2 separate regions of the Homo sapiens genome follow, and region 1 is linked to region 2. The links come from fine-mapping of genetic effects on gene expression. A gene starts in region 2. The other region holds a variant in brackets. All regions are shown on one strand. Distances are between the middles of the regions.

Region 1 (8,453 bases), 24 kb after region 2:
GCTACCCCACCCAGCCCGTGTCCTAGATTTGGATATTAAACATTCATCAGTGCACCACTGCCTGAGTCTCCCTCCTTCTCTGCACTTGCGGAGGGACTATCCCTCTCCCATCTCAGGCCGGTTCCCCCATGTTCTGGGTTCCCACCACCCACCCCCTGCTCTAAGGAAGGCTCTACCATCTACATACCACCCCTCCTGTCTATATCTCTTGCCTCACTCTCAGTACTCAGTACAATTTAAAGGTCAATGTCCTTCCCTTTGGCAGCCAAATTTGCTCAAGACTCTGCTGTCTTAAATCTACCAGCCGGGTGCGGTGGCTCATGCCTGTAATCCCAGCACTTTGGGAGGTCAAGAGATCGAGACCAGCCTGGCCAACATGGTGAAACCCTGTCTGTACTAAAAATACAAAAATTAGCTGGGTGTGGTGGTGGGCACCTGTAGTCCCAGCTACTCAGGAGGCTGAGGCAGGAGAATCACTTGAACCCGGGAGGCTGAGGTTGCAGTGAGCTGAGATTGCGCCACTGCACTCCAGCCTAGGTGACAGATCGAGACTCCATCTCAAAAAAAAAAAAAAAAGAAAAAGAAAAAGAAAAAAACCCTAAATCCACCACATCCTCCTGTCACTCTTCCTCTCTCATCTCTCCATTACAACTTCATTTCTCAGACTGTCCACCTCTTGCGTTTCTCACACCCTTCTCTAGTCACTGTGATCTGGAATCAGCCCTTATCAACACAGACATTGTGGCTAAAACCAAGGGGCAGTTTGGCCAGGTGCAGTGGCTCATGCCTGTAATCCCAGCACTTTGGGAGGCCGAGATGGATGAATCACTGAGGTGAGGAGTTCAAGACCAGCATGGCCAACATGGCAAAACCCTGTCTCTACTAAAAATACAAAAATTAGCCAGGCGTGGTGGTGGGCACCTGTAATCCCAGCTACTTGGGAGGCTGAGGCAGGAGAATTGCTTGAATTTGGGAGGTGGAGGTTGCAGTGAGCTGAGATTGTGCCAGTGCTCTCTGGCTTTGGCGACAGAGCGAGACTCCATTTCAAAAAAAATAAATAGCCAGGCATGGTGGCTCACGCCCGTAATCCCAGCACTTTGGGAGGCCAAGGCGGGTGGATCACGAGGTCAGGAGATCAAGACCATCCTGGCTAACACAGTGAAACCCCGTCTCTACTAAAACTACAAAAAATTAGCCGAGAGTGGTGGCAGGCGCCTGTAGTCCCAGCTACTCGGGAGGCTGAGGCAGGAGAATGGTGTGAACCTGAGAGGTGGAGCTTGCAGTGAGCCGAGATCGTGCCATTGCACTCCAGCCTCGGTGACAGAGTGAGACTCTGTCTCAAAAAATAAATATAAATACATAAATAAAAACCAAGGGGCAGACTCAGCCTCCATCTCTGTGCCTTCTGGGAGGCGGGGACCCTGGTGGCTTCCTCCTCTTGAAGTTCTTTTTCCTTGGCTTTTACGACATGGCACTGGCATGGTCAACCTCCTCTTCTTGACCTTTTTTTTTTTTGAGAGATGCAGTTTTGGTCTTGTTGCCCAGGCTGGAGTGCAGTGGCATGATCCCGGCTCACTGCAACTTCTGCCTCCTGGGTTCAAGCAATTCTCCTGCCTCAGCCTCCAGAGTAGCTGGGATTACAGGTGTGCACCACTGCGCCCAGCTAATTTTATATTTTTAGTAGAGACGAGGTTTCACCATGTTGGTCAGGCTGGTCTCTAACTCCTGACCTCAAGTGATCCACTGGCCTTGGCCTCCTGAAGTGTTGGGATTACAGGCGTGAGCCGCCGCGCCCAGCTTCTTGGCAGTTTCAAAGCCTCACTTAAAACTCAATGTGTGGCTTGGTGTGGTGGCTCACGCCTGTAATCCCAACACTTTGGGAGGCCGAGGTGGGAGGACTGCTTGAGCCCAGGCGTTCAAGGCTAGCCTAGACAACATAGGGAGACCTCGTCTCTACAAAAAATTTAAAAATTAGCCAGTCATGGTGGCAGGCACTTGTAGTCCCAGCTACTTGAGAGGCTGAGGCAGGAGGACTGCTTCAGCCTGGGAGGTCAAGGCTGTAGTGAGCTGTGTTTGCACCACTGGACTCCAGCCTGGGTGTCAGAACGAGACCCTGTCTCAAAACAACAAAAACCTTAACATGTCCTTAACAGAGCTCATGATACTCCCTCCTAAGCATGAGTCTCCTGTCCTCGCTCAGCAGATGCCCCCTGCTGCCCTCCCTGCATCCGTTCTGCTCAATCAGGCCTTGCTACGGCCCTTCCCTCTCCTCCACTCTCACACTGAATCCATAGCCAAGTTCGGTCAATTTTAGCTCTGGAGCTAAATCTCTCTGGAGACCGTCTCTCATCTGGACCAGTCCTCACTGTACTCTCTGAAACTCCTCTACCAGTAGCTAGGGTGATTTCAAAAACACATATCTGGGCCGCGTGCAGTGGCTCACGCCTGTAATCCCAGCACTTTGGGAGGCCGAGGTGGTGGATCACCTGAGGTCAGGAGTTTGAGACCAGTCTGGGCAACACGGCGAAACCCCGTTTCCACTAAAAATACAAAAATTAGCCAGGCATGGTGGCGCATGCCTGTTGTAATCCCAGTTACTTGGGAGGCTGAGGCAAGACAATCGCTTGAACCCAGGAGCTGGAGGTTGCAGTGAGCTGAGATGGCACCACTGCACTCCAGCCTGGGTGACAGAGTAAGACTTCTTCTCAAAAACAAACAAACAAACAAAAATTATCTGACATCTCACCCTCCTGATCAAACTTGTCATTGGCTTCCCATTATTCTCTGTTTGATAAAAGCTAAGTCTTTGCCACAGCCACAGCCTCACCTCTCAGGCCTGGCTGTTCGTCCATCCTCACCCACTTTCTTGGAGATCTGAGACAAAGCTGCCCTCCCTCCAGTCTCAGCATCTCTTCCTGGAATGCTGCTAACTCCTGCCATACAACCTGTTCATTCTGCTTCTGATCTCAGCTTAAACGCTGCTTCTTTCCAGAAGCCCTCCCTGATCTACAAAGATTCCCATGTTTTGTGTTCCTCATGTAGCACTTAAGTTTGTCACTGTCTATATGTGACTATTTGATTGTCTTCCCAACTGTGGACTCCACAGGGTGTGTTTTGCTTATTGATGAACCTCAGTCCTAGCAAACAGCAGGTATTCAAATATTTGTTGTTGAATGAATGGTGTAGTTTTAGAAAAATTAAGTCTGGCAGTATGCAGAGAAGATGAAGTGGAGGCGGCGAGGAGGCTGTTGCACTGGTAGATGGAACTACAGTGGGGCTGAGGAACAGACACAAGGTAGACTT[C/T]GAAGTCAGATCTTCCTGGATTTCAGGTCCTGTTGGCTGGTAGAGGAAGGGTCGGGGCCACAACAGGACAGGGGAACACCCCACCTGCCTGCCTCAGGGAATACATGAAGCCTCCTCACACCTTCAGAGGTTCTGTACTGACCACTGCCCCTGGACAACCTGAGTGAGGGGAGAAAATCTCATGGCTGGTCCACATTCTCTATATGTTCCCCGACAAGGTGGGGTGGGGAGGGACTCCCCCTGACTGGAAGGTGCCAGGATCTCCCCTCTGCCCTGCATCCTCAACCCCTGCCAAGTCTGGTATGACCTAAGGCCTGGCACATGGCAGGGGTGGGGACAGGGCAAAGCTGTGACATCGTGGGTGAAACTGGAGAACCACCAGGAGCTTTCCCGTCCCTCTCCGGGTCAGCATCTTCTCAGGCATGAGACACTTCTCCTCCTGCCAGAGGAAGCCCACTGGGCCCACCATTGCTTTTTCTCTCTCTTGCACAGGGGGCTTGACTAGAACCCCGTTCCCATCTGTGCAGGCCTGGGCTCCCTCCCATCCCTAGCTGTAGCCCTCCTTGTGCGGCAGGCTTGAAAACAGCAGGGGAGGCAGCTGGAACCCCCAGGCAGCATCCTGTAGATGGGGCCCCGGAGCTGGGCCTGGCGGCAGCAGGGCAACTGGTGAGCACTTCCCGGAGGGCAGACACAAGGACACTCACTCGTGCAGCTGACACAAAGCGGCGGCTACATCTCCCAGCCATGCTCCCCACCCAGCCCCACTCACAGACACAGGGGGATGGACAAGATGGCATGGGAGGGACGACCGGGCAGGACAAGCAGGCTCGGTGGAGGAAGCGCCGAGGCGGGCGGCGGTGTCCTCATGGCGTGGTTTATTACAATTCCATCTCACAAGGCGGGTGGGCGGGTGGCAGCGGCACACGAAATCCAAGCCCCTGACAGACGTCTGCCTCGGGCGCATGCAAACAGTGCAACATGGTCAAGCGCAAACACGGGGCGACCGAGGAGACACGGGACATGGGACACAGAATGGGGAATGAGGCTGGGGCGAGGGGTCCCTAGAGAGGGGCCCGGTCCCCCCCACCCTCACGGGCAGGACAGGAAAAATAAGATTCGTACTTCTTGTAAAATGCCCATTTGCTGGGTACTTTCTTTCTCCTTATCTTGAAAAATAATAAAAAATAAACACACGGAAAAAAAATCTCAAAAAAGGAAAGGAATAAAACTCTAAGAAGGCGAGTGGCGGGAGGCCAGGGAAGCCCGACGTGGTGGGGCGCTGCCTCCCGCTCCGTGGCCTCCTTCCTCCCTGGCCCCTCAGTGGGCTCCCCAGGCCCCACAGGTGGGTCCAAGAGAGACGGGGCCGGAGGGGTGCAGGCTGGGACGCAGGAAAAAGGCCCGCCAGCCCGCTGGGGCTCAGTTCAGGCTCGGGCCCAGTGAGCAGGGGCACCAGGTCCATGATCTTCCAGGTTCAGTCCCCACAGGCCCATGACCCAGGCGGAGGCCAGCCGTCACAGGTGCAGCTCGTGGGTTTTGATGTGCTCAAGCTGCTCTCGGAGCTGTAGGAAGGAGGGCCGCATGGCGGCGTCCAGGTGCCAGCAGTTCTTCATGACTTCATAGACTGCGGGCGGGCAGCCGTCGGGGGCATCCATCTTGTAGCCCTTCTCCACCCGAGGGACGACGTCCTTCAGGGGCTGTGGCCAGGGGGAGGCAGGAGTCAGTCCAGGCCCTGGCCTCAGAGAGGACACCTACCCAGCAGCCTCTCAGGGATGCCCATCAGCTTTGCCGCAGACCCAGGCCCGGAGAGTGGCCTGTGAGCTCCCCAGGGCAGGCCTGAGGCTTCTAGGCCTTGATTGGGGAGGCAGGGCCCAAGGAGGCTCACGCCCCTGCCAACCCCTCCGGTGCTCCAAGAGCCACCCTGATCCCAGTACCCATACTCACAATTCTTGGATAAGGCACTCGCCCAAAGGAGTAGATTTCCCAGAGAAGGATTCCGAAACTCCACACGTCAGACTTAGTGGAGAATTTCTGCCATGTGGATGGAAGAAGCAGCGTCAGATCCTGGGACTCCAGGGTGGGGAGTGACCCAGGACTCCTGCCCACCTCTGTAGGCCCCAGGGGAGGCCAGCCCCACCTTCTCTCTCAGGGCCTCAGGGGCTGTCCACTTGACTGGCAGCTTGCCCGTGTCCTGGGTGCTGGACGCCTCCTTGGTGAGACCAAAGTCGCTGACCTTGGCCACGTTGTCCTCAGACACCAGCACATTGCGGGCAGCCAGGTCTCGATGCACGAAATTGTTGCCCTCCAGGTATTCCATGGCCTCGCAGACATCTCTGGGGGTAGGCCAGCCACATGTCCCCTCAGACTGGGGCTCCCATAGCAGGGCAGGGTACCCCTCAAACCCTACCCATCCAAGAGGCTGCTTCACTCACAGCGAGAACTTGAGGAGACAGTCTCCGCCCAGCACTGACCGACCCCTAGACCGCAGGTAGTCCACAAGGCTCCCCTGGGGGCAGGAAGGACAGACCAGGCCGAGGTCAGACGTGCCCTGCAGCCCTCTCACACAGCACGCTGGGGCCGGGTGGGTGTTGACACTCCAGGGAGGTGTGAGACAGGGAAGGAGTGGGGAGGGGCCAGAACATCCATGCCGGACACTGCTCTGTGTTATTCATGCCTTATCCCTTGACTCTCACAAATCTCTAAGTTGTTATTATCTCCATTTCCCAGATGTGATGCTGAGGCTTGGAGGTGACATGATTTGTCCAATGTTACAGTCAATGAATGGTAAACCAGGACAAAAGCCCAGCCCTGGTGACCTAAAAGCTCACTTGGGGTCGGGGGACTGAGGGAGCAGGGGCCCTAGAGCACAGTGGGGGTTTCGGGGCAGTTGGAAGGCCTGAGTGCCGGGTCTCGGCAGGTGCCCACCTTGGCCATGTACTCAGTGACGATGTAGAGCCCGCCCTTCTCCTCCACGATCACGCCCAGGAGCTGCACCAGGTTGCTATGCCGCAGTTGCCTGGGGCAGGACGAGAGTGGTCAGAAAGGGGAAGCTGGTGCCTCACTCCTAACCTAGGCCAACCTCCCCCCTACCCCGCCCCCACTCACGTCATGACTGAGGCTTCAGCCAGGAAGGCCTGGGCAGTGGCGTCGTTCTTAATGCACTTGACGGCGACTTTGTTCCCTCGGTAATCGCCCAGCATCACGTCTGGGGGCAGAGAGGTGGTCTTGTTCCCAAGTTCGGAGTCCCTCAGAACCCCCCCAGGGGGCCCGGCCCAGCTCACCTCCGAACTCCCCCTTCCCGATGGTCTGCAGCAGCTTCAGCTCCTTCATGTTCAGGGCCCAGCCGCCTGTGGGGAGGGGCCAGTGAGGGCCTGGAGGCCACTAGGGACATGGCTGGGATGACAGAGGCTGACTGGACTATCAGGCACTGGGGTTCTCTGGAGGTTCCTGGATGGGGCAGTGCCAGGAAGCCTGCGTGGGAGGAGGTGGGTGGGCAAGAGGTCTGGGGTGGGGTGCACTCACTGCGGTAGAACTCATCCTGGGCCGCCACTGTGCCCTCCATGACCTTTGGTTTAATGAGGCGCGTACAGAGTCCATCTGCGTCTGAGGTGTAGTGCTGCAGGGTGTGGGGGGCAGGGTGCTCAGAGACAGCCCAAGGTGCCCCATATGCACCGTCCAGGCCTGACCACCAGAGGGCGGCAGAGGCCAGCCCCGCCTAGCCTGGAGTCACTGAGTGGGGAGGGCTCCCCATTTCTGGTAGGGCAGGGGTTAGGGAAGTCCCAGATTATGACGTATGGCCCATTTCCCATGCCACCCTACATGCGGTTGCTGGACACTCAGCTGCTGCTACCACTCTGGGCCCCATGGGTATCTGATGCAGAGGGCAACCCATGGCTCAGTCCTGAAACCAGCCTCTAGCCAGGAGTGCCCAGGACCCCACCCTCACCTGCCACAGGCCAAGCCAGGCCAGTAGGGGAGGGAGATAAGAGTGAATACAGAGGGACACGGGAGGCTTCCTGTGGCTACCGGATGCCAGGTGTGGCCTGGCCAGGGCTGGCAGAGCTGGCCTGGGAAGCTGCAGGGACCTGTGGGCATGTCCGTGCAGGTGCGAGAGCCTCAGGGGCCCTGGCGATCAAGGCGCATGGCTCATGTTTCTGCACACGCTTCTGAGCATGCAGGTCTGTGAGTGGCTGGAGGAAAGTTAGCTCTGGGATCAGACAGACTCAGATTCTAGTCCTGGCACCAAATTATATCTGTGGGACCTCAGGTGGGTCCCCTAACTGCTCTGAACCTTCAACTCCTGGTCTATAAAATGAGGATAAGGCTCCCCTCCTCATGGTGGCACTGTGGGGTCAGAGGTGAGTCCTGGCACGCAGCAGCTGCTCCACCAAGGTGTGAGGAAACAAGGGCTCACAGAAGTTGCCCCACATGGCTGGTCACCACGCAGAAGCAGTGGGGCTGGAGCTAGAAGCCAGGGCCCCAGATGGGTTTAGGGTGTGTGAGGGTGGGAGCAAGGCTCTGTACCCCCCAGCTCACCTCCACCAGCTGCATGAGGTTCTCAAAGTACACCTCCTCGTCGATGCTGAGCTTGCTGGCATGGTACATGATGCGGTAGTGCTCCACCTTGCCGTCGCAGCTCACGCACAGCGTGTAGTCTCCGGGGTAGTTGGTGCTCTCCCGCACCAGGAACAGGCCTGTCTCCGGCGGGTACAGAAGCCGCTCAGCCTGCTCCCGTGTGATCTTGCCGTGGAACCAACTGGGGAGCAGCAGGGCTGGAGGTCATGGTGGCCCAAAGGTACTGACCCTGGCTCCCCTTTCTGAAGGGGTTCCCTCTGCTTGGCACCCGTGGCTCGCACTCGCTCAGTCAGGCATTTGAGGCCCTCTTCTTCTGCTCCCTGTCCCTTCTTTGCCACCCTCCTGCCTCTGCCCCCAGCCCTGCTCTGTGAGGTCCCGCACCCGCACCCTGCACCTCCTCCTGAGGCCCTCCCCAACACCCAAGCCCCTCACTCTGGCCTCCCTGCTTGCTCCTGATGCTCCTTCAGGAGGACCAAGGCCCCTTCCCTCCCCAACCCCTCCTCGTGGTACTCACGGCATGAGGCTGAGTTTGGTACCCGCCTTCACGCCCTCCCGCTTCTGGACGTAGTTGGCTGGGA
Region 2 (8,453 bases):
TGTAGGTGGGGGGTGGAGGACACCCCTTTAAGGCAGGCTCGGGGGGCTATGAACTCCAAGACTCCTGGAAGCCAGTAAGAAGTGGGAAGGTAGGCACACCATTTGGGATTTTTATTTTTCACTGAGCTAAGAGAGGAGATTCCAGCTATGGAATCCAGAGAGCGTTCTACAGGAACAGAACAGAAATTGGCTGGGCCCTGGGCCCAGAGGAGGCCTGGAGCCGCTTACTGTTCAGTGCCAGCTTCATCCTTGGCACTCTGCCTCTCACACAGCATCGCTCCGGCTCCCAGAGCCCACAGTGGCAGCCGCTGGAGGCTGTGGCAGCAGCTGCTGCCCTGCCCAAGGAGGGATGTGGGCTTGGCTCTGACAGTTCAAGCCAGAAAGAGCCTTAGAAGTCATTCAGGACATTCCCATTTTACAGATGATGAAATAAGGCTCAGAGAGAGCAGGGGCTTTCAAGAACAATAAAGGTGGAGACTGGAACTCAGGCCTCCTGTCTGCTGAGGGTGTCTGCCCATGCTCTCTCTCAGAGTTTCTGAGTGGTGGTGTCTGGAGGGGCTGGACACGCAAGGGAGCTGGCCTCGTGTGTGTCTGTCTGTGCCGGGATGTATCTGTGGCTTCTGTCTCTGAACGTGCCAGGGGTTTTGTGTCCTGTGTGTGTCTCTCTGTGGGTGCTCCTGTGTGCAGGAACTTGGGGCCATGGCCAGAGAGGGATGGGCCTATTCCTACAATCTTGGGAGGCCTCCACAGGCTGAGCTGGTGGGGAGGGTCCTGAAGGGTAGAGTGAAGATGGGGACTTTACTCCCAGCGGAGAGGAAGAAACCAGAAGATAGGCTTGGGGCATGGATGGGAAAGGTCTTGGAACTAGGATGGGGCAAGGGAAACAAAGCCCCAAATGGAGTATGGGTCCCTGGAAGTTGACACACTCTTAGCCCTCATGGGGGCCCAGCCCAGTGGGTAACCCCGGGGAAGTGGTCACATGACGTGACACTTCTCAGCTGATTGCTTGAGATCCCCCAGTGTGGCCTGGGCCTTGTCCTTGAGTGAGCCCAGGTTCAAGCCAGGAAGGCTGGCCAGCTGCCCAAGGACTGAGGCCTTCTCCTCCTCCTCCTCTGTGTCCTCCTCGATCATCTTGGCCAGCTCCCGGGGCAGCTCCACGTCTCCACCTGCCATCTGGATCTGGCTCTCATCTGTCTCGTTCTGAAGGGAAGAGGGGAAGAGGGGGTGGGGTGGAGTGGAAGTCTGTGAGGACCCAGAGTTGAGAGGACAGGGAGGAGGCTTGGACTGGGTTCCAGGCCCCTAGATTCTATTTTTTCTTTTTTTTTTTTTTTGTAGAGACGAGGTCTCCCTATGTTGCCCACGCTGGTCTCAAACTCCTGGGCTCAAGTGATATGCCCACCTTGGCCTCCCAAAGTGCCGGGGGAATACAGGAATGAGCCACTGTGCCCGGCCCCTTAGATTCTTGAGCCCCATGTTCCAGTGAGCTCAGCTCCCACCCCCACATCCCAGGATCAAGCGTTTGATGCCTGGACATGGAGACCTTTTTATATTACCTTATTTCACTCTGAGATGCTGAAGGACCAGCACAGTGAGTAAAGACAAAATGAAAATACCTATGAGTCACACTGTTACAGTCAGCTAAGTCATGTTTTGACTCTTGTTATGCTTAAGGGTGTAACCAAAAATAGTGATGGGTACCATTTATCAAACATCTATTATATCTATTACATGGCAGACGTTGAGCTGGGTGCTTTTAATTCTCACAATAACCCTGTGAGGTAGGTAGGTATTGTTATTTCCACTTCACAAATAAGGAAATTGAGGCTTACAGGATTTAAGTAACTTACTTTAAATTTAAGTTACTTAACTAACTTAAGTAACTTAAGTAACTTAAATTATCCAAGATCACACAGGCAGGATGTTGGGGAGCTAGATTCAAACCTATGTCACTGATTCCAACATCTGTGTTTTTTTGCATGGCACCTACGATGACCATTGCCCTTCACTATTCTTCTGGGGGGCGCCTTATGTCCTACTCAGTTGCATCCAAGTCTTGGCTCTTCTGCTCAACTCTGACTTTGCTGATGGCAGGTGTCTCTTATATGCCTAGCGCAAGCATCTGAGGAATGATTTTATTCCTAGAAGAGTTTGCAGTGAGGCAGGCTTTCTGGACCGGTTTTTCCCCGTGACAGATTTCCAAAAGATTGGTGCCCTGTGGGGAGTCAGAAGCAGCTGGGGACTCAGTAAATATTTGTTGAATGAGTGAATGTGATGTTCATATATTTGGTCATTCAATTCAAGTGGAAGATCAAAATCAGGAGCGCTATAGCCCTGTGCTGTTTTCCCCTGAGTCCAGCACAGTTCTGGATGCACTAGGGTGATATTCTGGGAGAGATTTGTGCTTCATTCCCCTCCTTAGACAACAGGAGCAGCACACTTACACGCCCATCTGGTGGTGCACTGCCCAGGGGAGCGTGGGGGCAGGGATCTCCTGAGATATACTCTCTGGCTGCTTGGCCGGCCAAGGGGGTACTTGGCTCTCTACGGGCAGACTCCATACTCTGGAAAGCAGCCTGGGGCCCTGGAGCAAAGGCAGGCTCATATTCACCGGCTTGAGGGCTGGTCCCAGCTCCATGGCTCACTGGCTGTATGATCTTAGCCAAGTCCCTCCATTTCTCTTAGCCTCAGTTTCATCTTTTGTCGCTGTGGGTGATAGCTGCCTGGCAGCATTATTGGGGGTTAGATGAGGACATGAAGGTCAAGTACTTGGCACACACAGGGCTTCTCTCCCCCACCTTAAGTAAGTTCTGCCCTTCAGTAGGTTCAGAAACCCCCAGAACACTCACCTCTGCAGTCAAATCTACTGATTTCTGCCTCCCCTGTGTCTTCCTCTGCCCAGGCCTGGCCCAGGCTTGGTGGGGATATGGGGGGTGGAGGAGAGAAGAGGCCTAGATTGGCTCCAGAAATACAGACCTGTCAGTCTCATGAGGACTGGGGTCCCCTCAGCACAAAGCCCTGGCCCTTGGTGGGCACAGATTTAACTACGAGTGAGTGAATGAATAAAAGAACAAATGAATGAGAAGGAAGGATCTAACCAAATACCCTGTGAGTCTCATAGCTGAGGGCTGTGGTGCCCAGAATGGGGCGAAGGAGTCCAGAACCCAGAGCTCAGGGTCCCAGATGTGCCTCACAGCCGGGGCCAGCTTACCTTGGGTAGCCGGTATTTGTCTCGGAAGTGGCTCCGCAGTGTGGCCCGCTCTGCCTTCCTCTGTGTGAACTGTGCATCCCGCTCCATCCTGCAGGGTCACCGGAGGCAGAGTCACCACGAGGGCTGAGAGAAGGGGGTTGAGGTCTTCGAGGGAGGGACAGAAGGGGTCTCTGAGTCCTAGCAGCTGCTGCATTGGTCCCTGTGTGTAGCAAAAGCGCTCCAACCCGGACATCCAGGTTTCTGCTGCCTCTGCCCATCACAGTGCCCTTTGTCGTCTCTGCCACTGGATGGAACTAGGGAACCAGGGTGGCAGTCTGTCTGGCTCTCTCTGCAGATCCTAATTATTTGTCCCTCATGGCCTCCAACTTGGTCTGCTGTTCCCTCACTGACAAGCTATGTCATGTGGGGAAAAGTATTCAGGCCAAACTTGGGTTCACATCCCAGCTCCACTACCATTTTAGGTATATCCTTAGGTAAGTCACTTACCTTCCTCTTCTGTAAAATGGGGATAAAATTTTGCAACTCACAAAACTGTTATCAGGATTGAGCGAAATAATAGCTATCATTTATGAGACTTTATCATGTGCCAGGTGCTGTGCTAAACAGTTTACATGCATTGGCATTTAATCTTCATAAATATACAAGGCATGTATTATGATTACCATCCCCACTTTCCAGAAAAGGAAACAGAGGCACAGAAAGGTTAAGTAACTTGCCTAAAGTTATCCAGCTAATAGGCAAAGCCAGGCTCTGAACCCAAGTAGCCTAGCAGCAGAGTCCAGCCCCAAACTCTGTCCCAGCACTGCGGGCACACAAGTGCTCAATGTTTGTGAGTGCCCCCATCTCAGGGTCTGTCTCCGCGACTCTGAGCGGCTGCACCACTTTTTTCAGAGCCTCAAGTTCAGAGGAGCCCCAGTTGGAAGACATAGGCGGCTGGGACCAGATCGGATTAAGGGATTATCGTTTCGTCAGAAACGCACGTGCACCCCCTTCCTCGTCCCAGGCTCCGGTCGGTCCCTCGTCCGGTCGCCCCTCCCCCCACTCCCCCTTGGCCGGAGCATGATGCTGGAGCGGGGTTTTGGGTGTCAGATAGGATGGGTCTGGGGGCAGTGTAGAGGACACCTCCCGGTCTCTTACCGTGTCTAGGAAAGTAGGGGAGAAGGGATTGGGACCTGAGGCTGGCCCGGGGATGGACTGAGCAGCTGTGGGGGTGGGGAGGGGAGGTCGTTGGAGCCAGGAAGGGATCCCACTCACTTCTCTTCCACGAGTTGCTTCTGATACTCCTCGTACTCCTCCCGGCTCATGCCCTGAGCTTCGGCTGCCGACTTGTCCCCATCTCCCTTATCCTCGCCGCCTCCCAGGCTCCCAGTGAGGTTCTTCAGCTGGCCGCCCACCATGGTCTTCACCATGAACGCCATGGTCTTCGCCGGCCGGGGCACCGGGCGCCTGCTACCACGCGCCAGGCACCGGGCACGTCCGCGCCTACTTCAGCACTAGGTTTCGCGGACAGCTCCCGCCGCGGGCCCGCGCCCCACGCTTGGCACCGCCCGCCGCCCGCCCCCGCCCGGGCCCGCCCCCACCTCCCCAAACCCCTCCTCACTGGGGGCGGGGGGCAGCACGGGGCTGAGAAGGCTGGACCACGTGCCCGCTCCCCACTCCCGCCTCCCCCACGTGCCTCCTTCAACGCCGAGCTCCGCTGGGCACTGCTGACAGAGGATTAGGGCCTGCGGTGGTGGGGTCGCTCTCCCGGGAGAGGGGTTGAGCTCATACACTCCCGGAACCCTGTTCCATAGCCTCTTCCAACTTTCTCCTCTCCTGGGCCACTAATAACTAGGATTTCAGCTGGGAGATCCAGGTAGCAGCAAGGGGTAAAAACCCAGCCTTGGGTGCCCCCCATTCTCCCCACCCACCCAAGTCACTGAACCCAGCAGCTGCCCAGAGAGCTTGACGCTGGAAAAGGGAGGGAGACCTGAGGGCGCGAGCGGGAATCCCAGTTATGGTTCCACGAGTTGGCCTCTCAGGGTTGCTCTGTCACGCGCCTCCCCTGCTGCCCCTGGAGCAGCTAGGAGTGGGGAGGGAGAGAGCTGCTCAGTGATGCTGGCTGAGCTGGGCCAGGAGGGACACTGGGAGACACTGCTCTCTGTTATGGGTGAGTTTGAGGACAGAATTATATACAGTCATGGCTCTCTTTCCCTCCATAGTCGAGGGTTCAAAGCCCGTGGGGTATCCGGTCTTTTGGAGGTTAAGCCAGGCCTTGGCCTCCTTGCCTGCTTGGAGCGCACTCCCAGCCAGGTACTCAGAAGGGGTGGAAGCCTTCACAGAGATTAGGGTGAGGCTGGAAAGAAGACCAGCATATCACAGCATGGGGAGAGGGAAATCACCTTTAACGAGGTGGGAGCATGCCGAAAGCTCAGGTGTGCGTGGGAGCTGGGCACCCAGACGGAGAGGATACTGACCAAGCCCCCACCCAAGACACTGCCTGCTTCCCAGTGATGCAAAGCAGGCTCTGAGGTGGGTCAGGCAGGCATGCTGGCAGGGAGAGGCTGCCTCCTCAGAATCCCCAGGGCCCTGGGGGTGTGTGGTGCAGGACCCAGAGGAAGGCTGCCTGTGGACAGACACTCCTGAAGGCTCTTGTTCAGCTCCTGCCTGCTGCCAGAGAGAAGGTTACAGGTTACTTGCGTCTCTCCTTTATGGGCTTTTGAAAAACCAGGACTCTCATGCTTGCCTTGCTACACTCACTGCACCACAACCTCCGCTGTTCTTGGACTTTCTGTGGCTCCTTTGGCCCGCTGCATATGGTCCACGCTTTCCCCCTGGGCATGTAAGGTCTGTCCTAGTGGCTCCAGGCTGATTGCCACCACTGCACTCCTGTGCATGTGCTGAAGCCTGTGAGCATTTCTACCTTGTGCTTTTTAAAGCTTAGCTCATTTTACTCCTCCTCCAGGACCATCCCAGCCCACACGGACTCTTCTTGTCTTGAAATTCCACCAACAAAGATTGTCAGTCTCATTGCTGAGGCCTTTAGCACACCCCACATCTCTAAACGGTGCACGTTCATTCAGCAAACACACACCAAGCAAAACTAGTGACCTCCTCTCACTTTTTCAGATCTCTTTGCCCAATTTCACAAACTCGTCCTGCCCTTTGCTCCAACATTACTGAACTTGCCACTTTTTCTCTAAAATATTATGTTTTTCTCATGCCTCCCTGCCTTTTCTCATGCTGTTCCCTCTGCCTCTATGCCTTTACCTATCTTGTCAGGGTGGAAAACTCCTAGTCACCTTAATGACCATATCAAATGTCCCTTCCAGGTTGATTCCCTAACCAAGGGGGGTCAAGTGTGTTCTCCTGCACTCTCGTAGCCCCTCAGCTTCCTGACATCATGGCATTGACGACACAGGGTCAGTTAGACCTGTGTGAGTGAGCTCCGTGAGAGCAGGACCCAGATGGGGCTGGGGGCCGAGCAGGTGGTCAGTAGTGCTTGGTGAGAGAATGGGCCCTATCCCGCACTGTGCTCTTTGTGATTTGGGGACTCGGCAGGTCCCCTCTGAGCTGAAGTGTCCCCTCTCCTAAATCCAATGGTTATAGCTGAGAACCAAGAGATGCCAGTGCTGTGGGAAATCCTGCTCACGGGGTGGCCCACCTGAAGTGCACGTAGCCGAAGAAGCCTACAGTCTGAATGAGGAGGTAGAACAGGAAGATGCCAGGCTGCAGGCACGAGGAGGCCCTTGGGGGCTGGCCAGGTGGGCGGGGGGCCTTGGCTGCTGCCTTCTGAAAGGGGAAAGTCTAAGGTCCTAGCTTAGCTTCTTACCCAGAAGGAGTGGGGGACCTGGAATCTAGGCCATGTGCATGCTCCGTTTCCTTTCCCCAGGCTTGGGGCGTCCTGGCTCTCATCCAGGGAACTTGGAGAGGGGGCAGTGTACAAAGCTGCCTCCCCCACCCCAGCTCCCATGGCTGCATCTGTGGGAACAGCTGGGAAGGCCTGGGGCCTGGGATCATCAAGGGGCCCAGGGTTCAAGAGAAGAGAAGAGAGAAGTAAAGAGCCAAAGACAGGGTGAGCAGGGTGAGGGCGAGGGAACGAGGATGGGACAGGGCATGGGGAAGCGCTGACTACCACTGGACTCAGTGATCTTGGACACAGCCCACCCTGTTTCCCCTCTGGTCATTGGATATTGGATCGAGGGGTGTCCAGGGCCCTGCTGCTGCTGAGTCTGTGGGACTCTTCAGAGAGGAGAGAGGACAGAGAAAAGATGAGATGTGTGGTGGCACGTATGCACGGACACACAGACACTGACGCAGGCACAGATGTGCTTGCCAGCAGTCCTGGGAGGGGAGGGCAAAGGCAGGAGGGCTTGGGGCTGCTGAAGTGCTGGAAGAAGGGTGGCTGAGCCCAGACGTCAAGGTTGGGGACCCCATGCTGCCCACTACTTTCCCCTCACCGCCGGGCCCCGAAGCTCCTCCTGCAGGAGGCCCAGGATGTGGTCCAGCTCTAAGAAATGATGCTCAATGCCCACAGGCAGGTAGGAGACCTGGGCTTCTGCAGCCATGCGGACAGCTGCATCCCTAACCGGGGGTGGTAACCAAGTAAGATGACTCATTACCTCTTCTGCTTCCACCCAGATGGCCTAATCATTTCCCATCTCCCCAAGGGCAGCACATGGATGGGGAACAGGTACCATCCATGGGGCCCCTTCTTGGGGGCTGGTCTTTTCACCTCCAACCTTCTTCCTAGATCCTGAGACTTTAGCTCAGATAAAGATCTCCCTAAAGCTATCTGTGTCAACCCCAGGCTCCCCGGCTCTGCCTTCCATTCCCAGCCCCTGGGGATTTAACTCCTTTCCTTCTTCTCATCTAGGTGCCTCTCCACCCCCAACCCTAGGCATCTAGCTGTGTGTGTACAGGTGGGGCTTTAGGCTTCAGCCTGGGATGCATGCCTCCTCCACAGCATCCCCAGGACTCCCCCAACCCCCAGGGCTCCAGAGGCCTGGCCTAGAGTGGGATACCGGGAAGTTAATGGGGGCACAAAACCAAGTCAGGGACTGTCTCATCCAACTGGTCTGATCTTGGCTGTGCTCCCTCTCCAAGAGCCCCCAACAAAATGCCCCTCATCCTAGGAGCTGCCATTGAAGGAATGCTCAGATTTCTTAAGCCTCCTGAGGGTGGGAGTGTCTGAGGGGGCCTTCATGATGGGCTTCTCCAGGAGAGAATTGCTTTTTAACTAGGACTTGCAAAACATTAAACTTGA

What was found. PIP is the estimated chance that this variant, and not a neighbour inherited with it, causes the effect.
Region 1: its variant is fine-mapped to the expression of CPLX3 in whole blood (TOPMed, PIP above 0.99).

The regions. Positions count from the first base shown.
Region 1 is chr15:74,798,875-74,807,327 of GRCh38, reverse strand. It overlaps CSK (C-terminal Src kinase), which reads right to left. Exons shown (of 13, transcript NM_004383.3): 4 at 8,390-8,453; 5 at 7,837-8,056; 6 at 6,823-6,916; 7 at 6,582-6,647; 8 at 6,406-6,505; 9 at 6,226-6,316; 10 at 5,733-5,806; 11 at 5,438-5,633; 12 at 5,245-5,331; 13 at 4,131-4,997. The coding sequence ends at 4,815. Among named protein-coding and RNA genes, the nearest start is that of LMAN1L, 9.7 kb to the left of the region's middle. RefSeq lists enhancers at 5,797-6,646, 6,826-7,120, 7,125-7,244, 6,647-7,498, 7,774-8,453 and 1 more. The variant C/T (reference allele first, on the strand shown) is at 3,304.
Region 2 is chr15:74,822,877-74,831,329 of GRCh38, reverse strand. CPLX3 (complexin 3) reads right to left here and starts at 4,703. Exons shown (of 3, transcript NM_001030005.3): 1 at 4,463-4,703; 2 at 3,209-3,296; 3 at 1-1,200. The coding sequence starts at 4,626. The coding sequence ends at 976. LMAN1L (lectin, mannose binding 1 like) reads right to left here. Exons shown (of 14, transcript NM_021819.3): 12 at 7,648-7,771; 13 at 6,852-6,979; 14 at 5,576-5,854. The coding sequence ends at 5,725. It overlaps LOC105370897 (a long non-coding RNA gene), which reads right to left and starts at 3,198. Exons shown (of 2, transcript XR_932478.1): 1 at 2,442-3,198; 2 at 1,629-2,212. RefSeq lists a silencer at 4,514-4,721 and an enhancer at 8,220-8,453.